2 separate regions of the Homo sapiens genome follow, and region 1 is linked to region 2. The links come from fine-mapping of genetic effects on gene expression. A gene starts in region 2. The other region holds a variant in brackets. All regions are shown on one strand. Distances are between the middles of the regions.

Region 1 (5,371 bases), 36 kb after region 2:
GGAAGACAAAACTCTTGGTAGTGGCTGTAGCAGAGCAATGGTGAAGGAGCCAGTCTGCCGCAGCCACTCTTCAGGACTTTGCTTTCCTGGGGCCAGGTTGCAAACAACCTTGAAGCTTGACCAGGGTATGTGGACCTTATCCTAATTTTTATGGGTTTTGTTTGTTTGTTTAATCAGAGACAGGGTCTCTCTATGTTGCCCTGTTTAGTTTCCAACTCCTAGACTCAAGAGTCCTCCTGCCTCAGCTCCCCAAAGTGCTGGGATTACAGGCATGAGCAGCCTGGCCTATTGGAGGTGGTGTGTGTTTGTTTGTTTGTTTGAGACAGAGTCTAGCTCTGTCGTCCAGGCTGGAGTGCAATGGCACCCTCTCAGCTCACTGCAACCTCTGCCTCCTGGGTTCAAGCAATTCTCCTGCCTCAGCCTCCTGAGTAGCTGGGACTACAGGTGCACACCACCACGCCCAGCTAATTTTTGTATTTTTAGTGGAGATGAGGTTTCATCATGTTGGCCAGGCTGGTCTTGAGCTCCTGACCTCAAGTGATCCGCTCGCCCCCGCCGCGGCCTCCCAAAGTGCTGGGATTACAGGTATGAGCCACTTTGCTTGGCCCCTATCCTAGGTTTTTAAGTAGGGAAGTAACATGATCAAGCTTGTCTTGCTCAGAGCTCCCCTCGGAGGAAAGGCTGGAGGAGGTGACTGAAGCTGTTGCCTTGAGGACCCAGTCTGGTCTCCAGCCTCAGTGCTTCAAGGACAGGGTCCTTGCTGTATAGAGCTACTGGTGATTCAGACACAATCCACCTTGTGTTGCCTGCGGCTGACCTCCACTGGCAGGTGCCCTCTCCCTCTACAGTGGAGGTGTATGCGCTCAGGCAATGCAGGCTCAGCCCAGCTGTGGTCCCCCTGGAGGCAGTGAGCCCTTTGAGAGGTCTGAGCCAGGGGTGGTGGTTCACACCTGTCATCCCAGCAGTTTGGAAGGCTGAGGCTGGAGGATTGCTTGAGGCCAGAAGTTTGAGACCAGCCTAGGGAACATAGCAAACCTATCTCTACAAAAAAAAAAAAAAAAAAAATTAGTCAGATGTGGTGGTGTGTTCCTGTAGTCCTACCTACTCAGGAGGCGGAGGTGGGAGGATTACTTGAGCCCAGGAGTCCGAGGCTGCAGTAAGCTAAGGTTGCATCATTGCACTCCAGCCTGGGCAACACAGCAAGACCCTGTCTCTAAGTAAATAAATAAATACATTTTTTTAAATTAAAAAAAAAAGAGAGGGAAATCCAAGCCAAATCCTCCAGGGGTCAAAGTCCTGCTGTCCTCCCCTGCTCTGCTCAACCCCAGCCTACCTCTGTGTGGGGTGGGGGTGTCGGGGGAACCCATGCCGCTGAGCAAGGAGCTCCCTCAGCTGGTCTATTAGTCAGGTGAGGCTAGGTTCTACCGCAGTAAATCAGCCCCAAACTTCAATGACTTCACACAACAAAGTATATTTCTCAATCATGTTATACGCTCAGTGCAGTGGAGAAAAGAGGATGGAAGGGCAGGGCTCTGTTCCACCTAGGGTCTCAGGGATCCAGGTTGCTAGAAGAGCCACCATCTAGACAATCACCAGTCACCATGGCATGGGAAGAGAGGGCATGGAGAACTTACACCTTTTGATCCAGTAGTGACACATGTAAACCAAAAAGTGACTGAGGCAGGTCTCAATTGATTAGAAGCTTATTTAACCATGATTGAGGATGCAAAAAAACCAACAAAACAAAAACAAGTCACAGAAGCATCTACAACCTGTGATTTTTCCAAGGAAGGTTTCAGGAACTTCAGTATTTGAAGGGGAAAGAGCAAGCAGAAGAGGAAAAAAAAAAAAAAAAAAACGGGGTAAGGGGGCTGGGCGTGGTGGCTCACGCCTGTAATCCCAGCACTTTGGGAGATCCAGGCAGGTGGAGCACCTGAGGCAAGGAGTTCGAGACCAGCCTGGCCAACATGGTGCAAACCTGTCTCTACTACAAATACAAAAATTAGCCAGGCATGGTGATGCATGCCTGTAATCCCAGCTATTTGTGAGGCTGAGGCATGAGAATCACTTGAACCCAGGAGGTGGAGGTTGCAGTAAGCCGAGATCGCTCCACTGCGCTCCTAGAAGGGTAGACAATGAGGCAAATGGATACAATCTTAGGTTCCTATTAGCCTTAGTGAATGTACCTTTTACATGTGAAACAGAGGACCAAGTCAATTATGCAAAGTCTTGGGGTAGGAGGAGGGATGATTTCTAGTCTTGTCCTTATCCTGTCCCTGTGAAGATAAGCTGATAATTGACATTGTCAGGGTGAAGTTTAACAGAACTTGATTTTAGAACTAGCTTATAGGGGAATGTGTATTCTGAAAGGTTTAGGGGCCCACAGGGAATTTCCTTGTGAACAATTTGGGAAATATGTAGCCTTCTATTGTTGTGGGAACCTGGCTTACGAATGAGGCTATGACACAGGATTGTGAAACTACCGCTATCTGTTTGGGAACAAAAGGAAGGCAGTTTTTCTGTGACTCAGTTCCCAAACTTAACTTTCCCTTTGGCATAGTGAGTTTGGGGTCCCAAGACTCTGTTTGCTTTCACATATAGGTCACACTTCCGATTATAGCCAATTGGCCAGCACTAGCCCACTGGCCAGCAGCCAGGGTTCTGGAAAGGTAGAAGAGCCCACGGGTACTCAGTGGGCAGTGACTGTCTGTTCAGCCAAGTGCAAGCCAGGTTGGAGAGCAGGTTGGCTCCTGCCTGGACA[T/C]AGGAAGATGGATGACAAAGGATGCCCAGAAAGGTGTGGGCTCCTTCCCAGTTACCTCCAGCCTCCATCTGCTCTCTGATTCCTAGAGCACAGCTCAGAGAACATCAGTTCCACTTTCCCCCAGCTTACCCAAAATATAGCCCCTACCCATTCTGGCCTCAGCACAACGCTGCCTGATTTCTCTCCACTCTTTCTCCCCTCCCCTCCCCCTGCCCTCCCCATCTCCCCATACCTCCCAGCTCCAACCACACGAGGCTCCCCCTGCTCTGTAATATATACTTTATTTCCTTTACCCCTCCGGGAATGTTCTACCCCTCTCTGCTCACTAGAATCCCACCCATTCTTCCAAATCTAGCTCACTTATCACCTGGTCCATGAAGATTCTTCCCACAGAATATCCTCTGCTTCCTCTCACCTCACAGTCTCCTACAGATGAAATGCCCAGCCCACAGCTCCCCACTGAAGGGGCAGCCCCAGGCAGACCATGTGATCCCATTCCCTATCCCAGCCACAGTGAGGTGGATCCACACGGCCACTCTGTTGCCTGGGCAGTGGCCTATGAGGTGGGGCCTGGTGGGAAGGATGAGATGAGCTAGGTCTATCAAACTCTCTTTAGATAACTTTTTTTTTCTGGAGATAGGGTTTTGCTGTATCACCCAAGTTGGAGTGCTGTAGTGCAGTCAGGGCTCACTGCAGCCTTGAACTCCTGGGCTCAGGCAATCCTACCACTTCAGCCTCCAAAGAAGCTGGAACTATAGGCATGTGCTACCATGCCTGGCTAATTTTTTTAACTTTTTATAGAGACGGCGGGATCTTGCTTATGTTGCCCAGGCTGGTCTGGAACTCCTGGCCTCAAGCAACCTTCCCACCCCAGACTCCCAAAGTGCTGGGATTACAAGTGTAAGCCACTGTGCCAGCCAGCCAGTGTTTTCTTGCTGTGTCCTCAAAGAGAGAAAGGAACTAGTGAGCTCTCTGGGCCTTTCTTATAAGGTCACTAATCCCAGTCATGAGGACTTCACCCTCATCTCATCACTTCTCAAAGGGCCCACCTCATAATACCATCATTTGGGGATTAATCACCTCCTTTGAGAATGAAAGTTAAAAAAAAATTGGGGGTTAAAATTTCCACATACAAGCCAGTCATGGTGGCTCATGCCTATAACCCCAGCACTTTGGGAGGTGAGGTGGGAGGATTGCTTAAGCCCAGGGGTTCCAGACCAGCCTGGGCAACACAGGGAAACCCCATCTCTATAAAAAGTTTTAAAACTAGCCAGCTGTGGTGGCATGCCTGCAGTCCCAGCTACTTGTGAGGCTGAGGTGGGAGGATCACTTGAGTCTGAGAGGTTGAGGCTACAATAAGCCATGACCACATCACTGCACTCCAGCTTGGGTGACAGAGTGAAACCCCATCTCAAAGGAAAAAAAAATTTTTTCAACATATGGATTTGTAGGGGTGGCACAAACATTTAGACCATAGCACATCCAACTCTGTAATTCCTACCTCTGGGCTTTTTATGTAAGAGACAGACACACATAACTGGATTCAAGTTGACTTCATTTCACATAAGCAGTGTCTTCTTAAAGAACAACTTGTCAAATACAATTTTCATTCACTGACTTCCACACTGAGGGAGGATACTGGGTCCTAAACAATGTTTTCCTAAAATATTCTGTGCAAACCAGATTTTAACCAATGTAGTCATTGTTCTCCACTGACTTACTTTATGAATATTAATGATGACTTTTATATTCAGCGTTCACTTCGTGGTGACACCTAGCTAGTGTTTAGTTTTTCAAAAATTTCACTCCTTGGACCATTGGGTAATAACCAGCAAACAACAGGTAAGAGTCCCAAACTGCTGCTTGAAAGAGAAAAATCCCTTTGGAAGACCACGGTAATAACTACTACTAATGTGTGGGGGTTTTGTTTGTTTTTTGTTTTTGTTTTTGTTTTTGTTTTCAGAGGGAGTCTCGCTCTGTCGCCCAGGCTAGAGTGCAGTGGCACCATTTCGGCTCATTGCAACCTCCACCTCCCGGGTTCAAGCGACCCCAGACTCCCGAGTGGCTGCGATTACAAGCACCCGCCACCGCGCCCGGCTGCACTCTAGCCTGGGCAACAGTGCAAGAGTCCGTCTCAAAAAAAAAAAAAAAAGAGTAATAGACTGTATTTCCCGAAGTATATTCATGGCCTTGGATGTTGTTAACAAGCATTAAGATTTTAAAAGGGCCCGAGGTCAAACCATTTAGGAAGAATGCCTAATTCCCACAGTTAAGGCTCGGTGGGTGGGCGCATGCGCACAGGATCCTCGCCGTCAGGCACCTGCGGAACACACTTGGAAATCGCTTTTTCCGGAGGCCCAATTTCATTTCATTATACACCACACCACACTGTGCTGGGCTGTGGAGGAAGAACGGGAAGCAGTTTTGGTCCAGTCCTCCAGGACCTAGTTTTAGGAAGAGGGTGGCAAGGCAAAAAAAAAAAAGAAAAAAAGAAAAAAGAAAGCACAAATCCAATTACAGTTATGAGTTTATGACAAAGTTTCTATAAATGACGGACCGCATACAGACAGGGCCCCATAAGATTATGATGGAGCTGAAAAATTCCTATGG
Region 2 (5,371 bases):
ACAGACAAGACCACCATTACCTCAGAGGTTATATTCTTTGGGGAGGAACTGGACAATAAGCAAGTGAACAAATGATAGATGTAAATCAATGTGATAAAAAGGTGATGTGAAATCAATGTGATAAAGTGTGCATGGAGATAGCATTACAGTGACCAGAAGCATCTCCATGAGGCAGTAATCTTTGCAGTTGATTGACAGGAGCCAAGCAGATATGAATAGCGTTGCTTTTAAAATCCTTTCCATTCTACTTTTCTACTTATAAACAAATCTAAATTCATGGCCATAAGTACTCTATTCTAAGGAAAATATTTTAACTTAAAACCTTTTGCTCCCATCCTCCCCATTTCTTTTTTAACTGCAAATGTTGAGGCCATTATTAGCCCAAGAATTCTATTTTTTTTTTTTTCTGAGATGGAGTCTTACTGTTGCCCAGGCTGAAGTGCAGTGGCAAAATTTCGGCTCACTGCAACCTCCACCTCCCAAATTCAAGCAATCCTCCCACTTCAGCCTCCCAAGTAGCTAGGATTACAGACGTGTGCCACCATGACGGCTAATTTTTATTTTTAGTAGAGACAGGGTTTCTCCAGGTTGGCCAGGTTGGTCTCAAACTCCTGATCTCAAGTGATCCACCCACCTCGGCCTCCCAAAGCGCTGGGATTACAGATGTGAGCCATTGTGCTGGGCCTGAGTTCTAGTAAAGCCAATTCAGGACTGACCCGTAGGGCCCTGTGAGAATCCCTTCTTGCTCTGGCACCTCTCCTTCCCCATTATCTAGACTCTACAGTTCACCTCTCTCATTAGCTATAGTTTTTGCCAATCTTGGGGCTCCAAAGTCCCTCTTTCTTTACCCCCTCCTGGTGCTACTTCCCTGTGCAAAGCAGTGCTTCCAGAGATCATAAGCCCCATGAGGGCAGGAACACTGCTTGTGTTATTCACTGCTGCATTCCCAGCACCCCTGAATTGTGCTGAGCAGAGTTGGCACTCAATAAATATTCATTCAGTGAGAAAACTTCCTGAAGCCACTAGGAGGGTAACCAGTCACCTCTCCAGGTGCTTAAATACTTGAACCTACTAGAAAGAATTTGTGGCCTAACTTCATAGAGATAAATATTATTATTCCCATTTCACAAATGGACAGACAGCTGAGTTAGTTCAAATCATCTAAGATCATAATTACTCTACCTAAAATGGTCTGACCCTTGGTTAGAAATATTTTTTAAAGCCAAGAAGTAGAAGCTATTGAAAAATCCAGCATACAAAGAAAACATTACCCATGTCATTTAACATTTCTTGAAGATATGATGCATTTAACTAATGCAGAACAGCCTTCCTGGATAAATCCAACAATAAATATTTCGGTTTCCTGAAAACAAAACAAAAAACAAGCAAAATAACTCATCTTGGCTTGAATTATAGGAAATTCTTTGCTGGCAGCTCGGTCCAAGCTGATTGCATATGTGCTTTTAGGATAGGATTAGAGATTGCATGTGTTCTGCACAGCAACCATGGACACTTAACATTCATGAAATAATAATGAAACGGGAGGCCTGGATTTTTGTCTGTTTGTTTCTCCTAGGTCTCTTCCTCACTTAAGTGACCTTGGACAAATCCATTTCTTCCCTCGTATCTGATTTCCATGTATCTGTTTCGGGATAATGTTTATCACTAAGCCGCTTTGTGAGATCTTCAGATTACAAATAATTACTGCCCTTCATTTATGAAATTTTCCTCCTTCACTACCCTACGGGATATTTGCATGACCCTTCCATTGAAAACCTTTACACACAGTTGTGAAGCGTCAATACCATCTAGGGACGGTTCAGAGGTTCCAAAGCCAATCAACTGACAAGTCGTGAGGATAACTTGGGCCATGAAAAGTCCGTTTCCTATGCTACTGAGAATTGGAAAACAGGTATATGTACTAATTCCCAAACCACGTTTGCCTTCTTTCTGCCGTTTTCAGCCTCTTCTAAACTATGCAGAAGCTGCGGACATTTGACTATCTATATTCGGCAATTCCTTTCCAAAGCAATCCTACCGAAAACAGATCACACGGCCCCCACGGGCGGGCAGGACAAGCCACCAGGCCCTGGTGCAGGAGCTGCGCGCTCCACACATTGTTTAGAGGCCGACGCGACACAGCCATCTTGCGTCGGGGGCCCGGGCCCGGGAGGAGAGCGAGCCCCGTCCCCTGATCCCGGAGGCCAACACCGGCGAGGGGCTGCCCTGCACGCAGGCGGCCGGCCCAGGAGTCTTAGCGGATCAAGTTGTCTACGGCGGACTCGGGCCGGTCCCGCAGGACCCGGCCGCACTTGGCCGAGCGCGCAGGCGGGAAGGAGGCCGTCGGTCCGCCCCTCCCGCTGCCGCAGCGGCCAGGTCCGACAGCGGGCGCGGGACGCTGGATTCCTATTTGCCAGCTTCCTGCTGGGGAGCGTTTTCCAATGGGGCGCGGCGACCCGGCCGACCGCGTCCTCCTCCCCCACTGCCGCCCGGGTCTCCTCGGGGGCGCGCGCCGGGGCCCGCGCGGGGGCAGCCCCTCCCTCCCCTCCCCGCCGCGGCCCGAGACGCCCGCAGGCCGGGCGTTCACCCGCCGCGCCTCCGCCCGCCTTCCCCTCCCCCCACTTCCCTCCGGGCGCCCCAAACCCGGGCTTCGGGGGTTCGACGCCGTGCGCACACGGAGCGGGATGGGAGTGCAGGGCCGGGGGCGGGGGCTGGCCGGGTGCGGGCGGCAGTCTCGGCGGGAGCCGGCGGCCCCTCAGCGTGTCTTTTGTGTTTGTACACACACGGCGCGAGGCGGCCTGGAGGAGGGAGCGGGCGGCGCGCGGGGGAGGGGCGAGCGCGCGCCAGCGAACGGGCGCGCGGGGGGAAGGGCGGGGGCGGGGCGCGAGAGGAGCTATGGGGGCGGGGCCGAGCCTTCCCTCCATTGTGTGTGATTGGCTGGCGCGCGGCGCGGGGGCGGGGCGGCGTGTGTTGGGGGATAGCCTCGGTGTCAGCCATCTTTCAATTGTGTTCGCAGCCGCCGCCGCGCCGCCGTCGCTCTCCAACGCCAGCGCCGCCTCTCGCTCGCCGAGCTCCAGCCGAAGGAGAAGGGGGGTAAGTTTCCCCGTCTGCCCGCTTCCCCGGAACCGAGCCCCGCTTGCCGTCAGCCCCGAGCCGGGCCCTGGCGGTGCCGGGAGGGGACCCATAGCCCCTCCGGCTTAGCCCACAAACTTTTTGGCCCAGAAATGGAGGTGAGGAGCGAGTTTCCCTGTTCCCTCTGGCGGCGGCGGCTCCCCCGTCTCTCGCCGCCTCAGCCCAACAGCAGCAACCGCCGCGGCGCCGAGCCTGCTCTCCCTCCTCCTCCCCGCGCCCCTGGCTCCTCTTTCTTCGGTGAAATCCCGCCCGCCGCCCCTTCCCCGGACCCCAAACCTTCACCATGACCCGCGCGGGCCTCTTAACTACCGCCCCCGGGCCCCAGCCCCCAGTTTTCGAGCGGGAAAGGGGTGGAAATCGCCGCCGCTTCGCACCCTGGGGTAACTCGCTTTTTGCTGCCTCCCCACAGTTGTTGCTAAGCTTCACCATCTTGTCTCTCTTCTCTGGTCACCGACCATATTTTTTCCCCCGTTTCTCTCTTCCCCATTTCAAAAAAGCAAGAATTTTTAAAAGAGGGACGTTTTTTTCCCTTTTTTGGAGAGGCGGAAACTTGATGCATTTGAAATGCAAAAAAAACTTTTGCATTTTGGAGGGCGGCACGTGGCAGGGGATAGGGGTATTTTCGAGCGATTTGGTGTTTTGTCTCTTTGGAACGGAATCGGATACGTTTTGCGATTGTTTCCATTTTGTTCTGGTCGGGGAGCCGAGTTGGTTCCTGCTCGAGGCGCTGGGAGCGAGGCGGGCAGGTTGGGGGACCCTGTGCCGAGGGACCCGAAGGAGGCAAAACCAAAAGTTTATGTGGTGCTTGGGGTGGACCGGTCGGCGGATGTCGTGCGTTAATTAAAGCCTGGGTGCGGGGCACTTTTTATTTCACTGCGAAGCCTGTGAGGACTGGACGCGAGGACGGGGCTTTGTAGAATGCTCGCTGGTGGTAGCTGTTGTTCCTCTCTTGTTTTTTCGAGACGCCTTTTTGTCAACATAACTGTAAAGATGCAAAACCAAGAATATTTTCAGATATTTACAGCAATCCATCAACAGTCAGACGAAGGGGGGGCAGCCAAAGTGGGGGGGAGTAAGACCTTTTTTTTGCTGTAATTTGACTCGACCTTCCAGTGGTTTGTGCCTTTTTTCTTTTGACTTGTTTGTGGATGGAATGTTTACAGACATTTCTAATTACTGCTTTAATTAAATAAATTGGATCAAAGGCCGTTCGAGGTATTTTTGTTTTGCCGTTTGTCGCTCAGAATTGGCATTTTGAGAGGTGATTGATACTGCTAACAATTTTCTAGTACTCTAGTTTGTTTCAAGAAGAGATTTTGGGTAGACGTAATCTTCACCCTTTCAAATTATATAACAATACGAACATTATTTTTTATACTGATCATAATTTCCAGATTTGGGGAGGGGGTGATCGTGGCAGGAAAAGTTGTATGTTTGGTAGTTGCATATGGTGATTTTTGATTTTTCAATGCTGGTAGGTAAGTAAGGAGGTCTCTGTACCATGGCTCGTACAAAGCAGACTGCCCGCAAATCGACCGGTGGTAAAGCACCCAGGAAGCAACTGGCTACAAAAGCCGCTCGCAAGAGTGCGCCCTCTACTGGAGGGGTGAAGAAACCTCATCGTTACAGGTATTAAAAAACAGGAAAAAAATGGGACAAAGTCTCTCTTGTATGTATCCACATAATTTAACAAAAAGATGGATAACAGGAAAACTTTTTGCTTTAGAGAAACTTTTTTTTTTCATTTGAACACTTAACTACTGCTTAAATAAATGTACTGTATGATCATTTATATATAAAGTTAAGTATTAGGTTTTATTGAAAACGTTTAACTTTGAAGCCATAATCTTACCTGGAGGTCTAAGGAGACCTCGTATATCACTGATAATGTTAATGGGATATATTGACATTTTAGTTAACTATTAGTAATTCTTTAAAAATAGTTAAGTGTTGCTTTCTTGAATACACTTTTGAGGTTATCTTTCCTAGTTTTTGGCAAAATAATAATATAATCGAGATTGGGTGTTTTATAAAGTTCCTACCCCCTCATTTACTTGATTAGCTTATTTCCTTCTGTATTAGCTCTTTTGATTGTGAACTACCTGAGCCACTGTGTTGTTAAGGGCATCTGCCATTAGAGGGCAGAAGTTGCCTAGACTTAGCCTCCGCAAATATTACGATTAACCTAAAATAAAAGCTCATACAGTGGAAGAAATAAGTCAGAATGAGAGGTAAATTT

Evidence for each region. PIP is the estimated chance that this variant, and not a neighbour inherited with it, causes the effect. A credible set is the group of variants that fine-mapping cannot tell apart.
Region 1: its variant is the best candidate, but not a certain one, in a credible set for the expression of H3-3A in cerebellum (GTEx, PIP 0.80).

What each region holds. Positions count from the first base shown.
Region 1 is chr1:226,095,658-226,101,028 of GRCh38, forward strand. No RefSeq gene overlaps it. Among named protein-coding and RNA genes, the nearest start is that of LINC01703, 15 kb to the left of the region's middle. The variant T/C (reference allele first, on the strand shown) is at 2,762.
Region 2 is chr1:226,059,719-226,065,089 of GRCh38, forward strand. It overlaps H3-3A (H3.3 histone A), which reads left to right and starts at 2,998. Exons shown (of 4, transcript NM_002107.7): 1 at 2,998-3,093; 2 at 4,611-4,761. The coding sequence starts at 4,634. It overlaps H3-3A-DT (H3-3A divergent transcript), which reads right to left and starts at 2,777. Exons shown (of 2, transcript NR_185887.1): 1 at 1,272-2,777. RefSeq lists silencers at 2,117-2,966, 2,553-2,718, 3,337-3,406 and an enhancer at 4,600-4,669.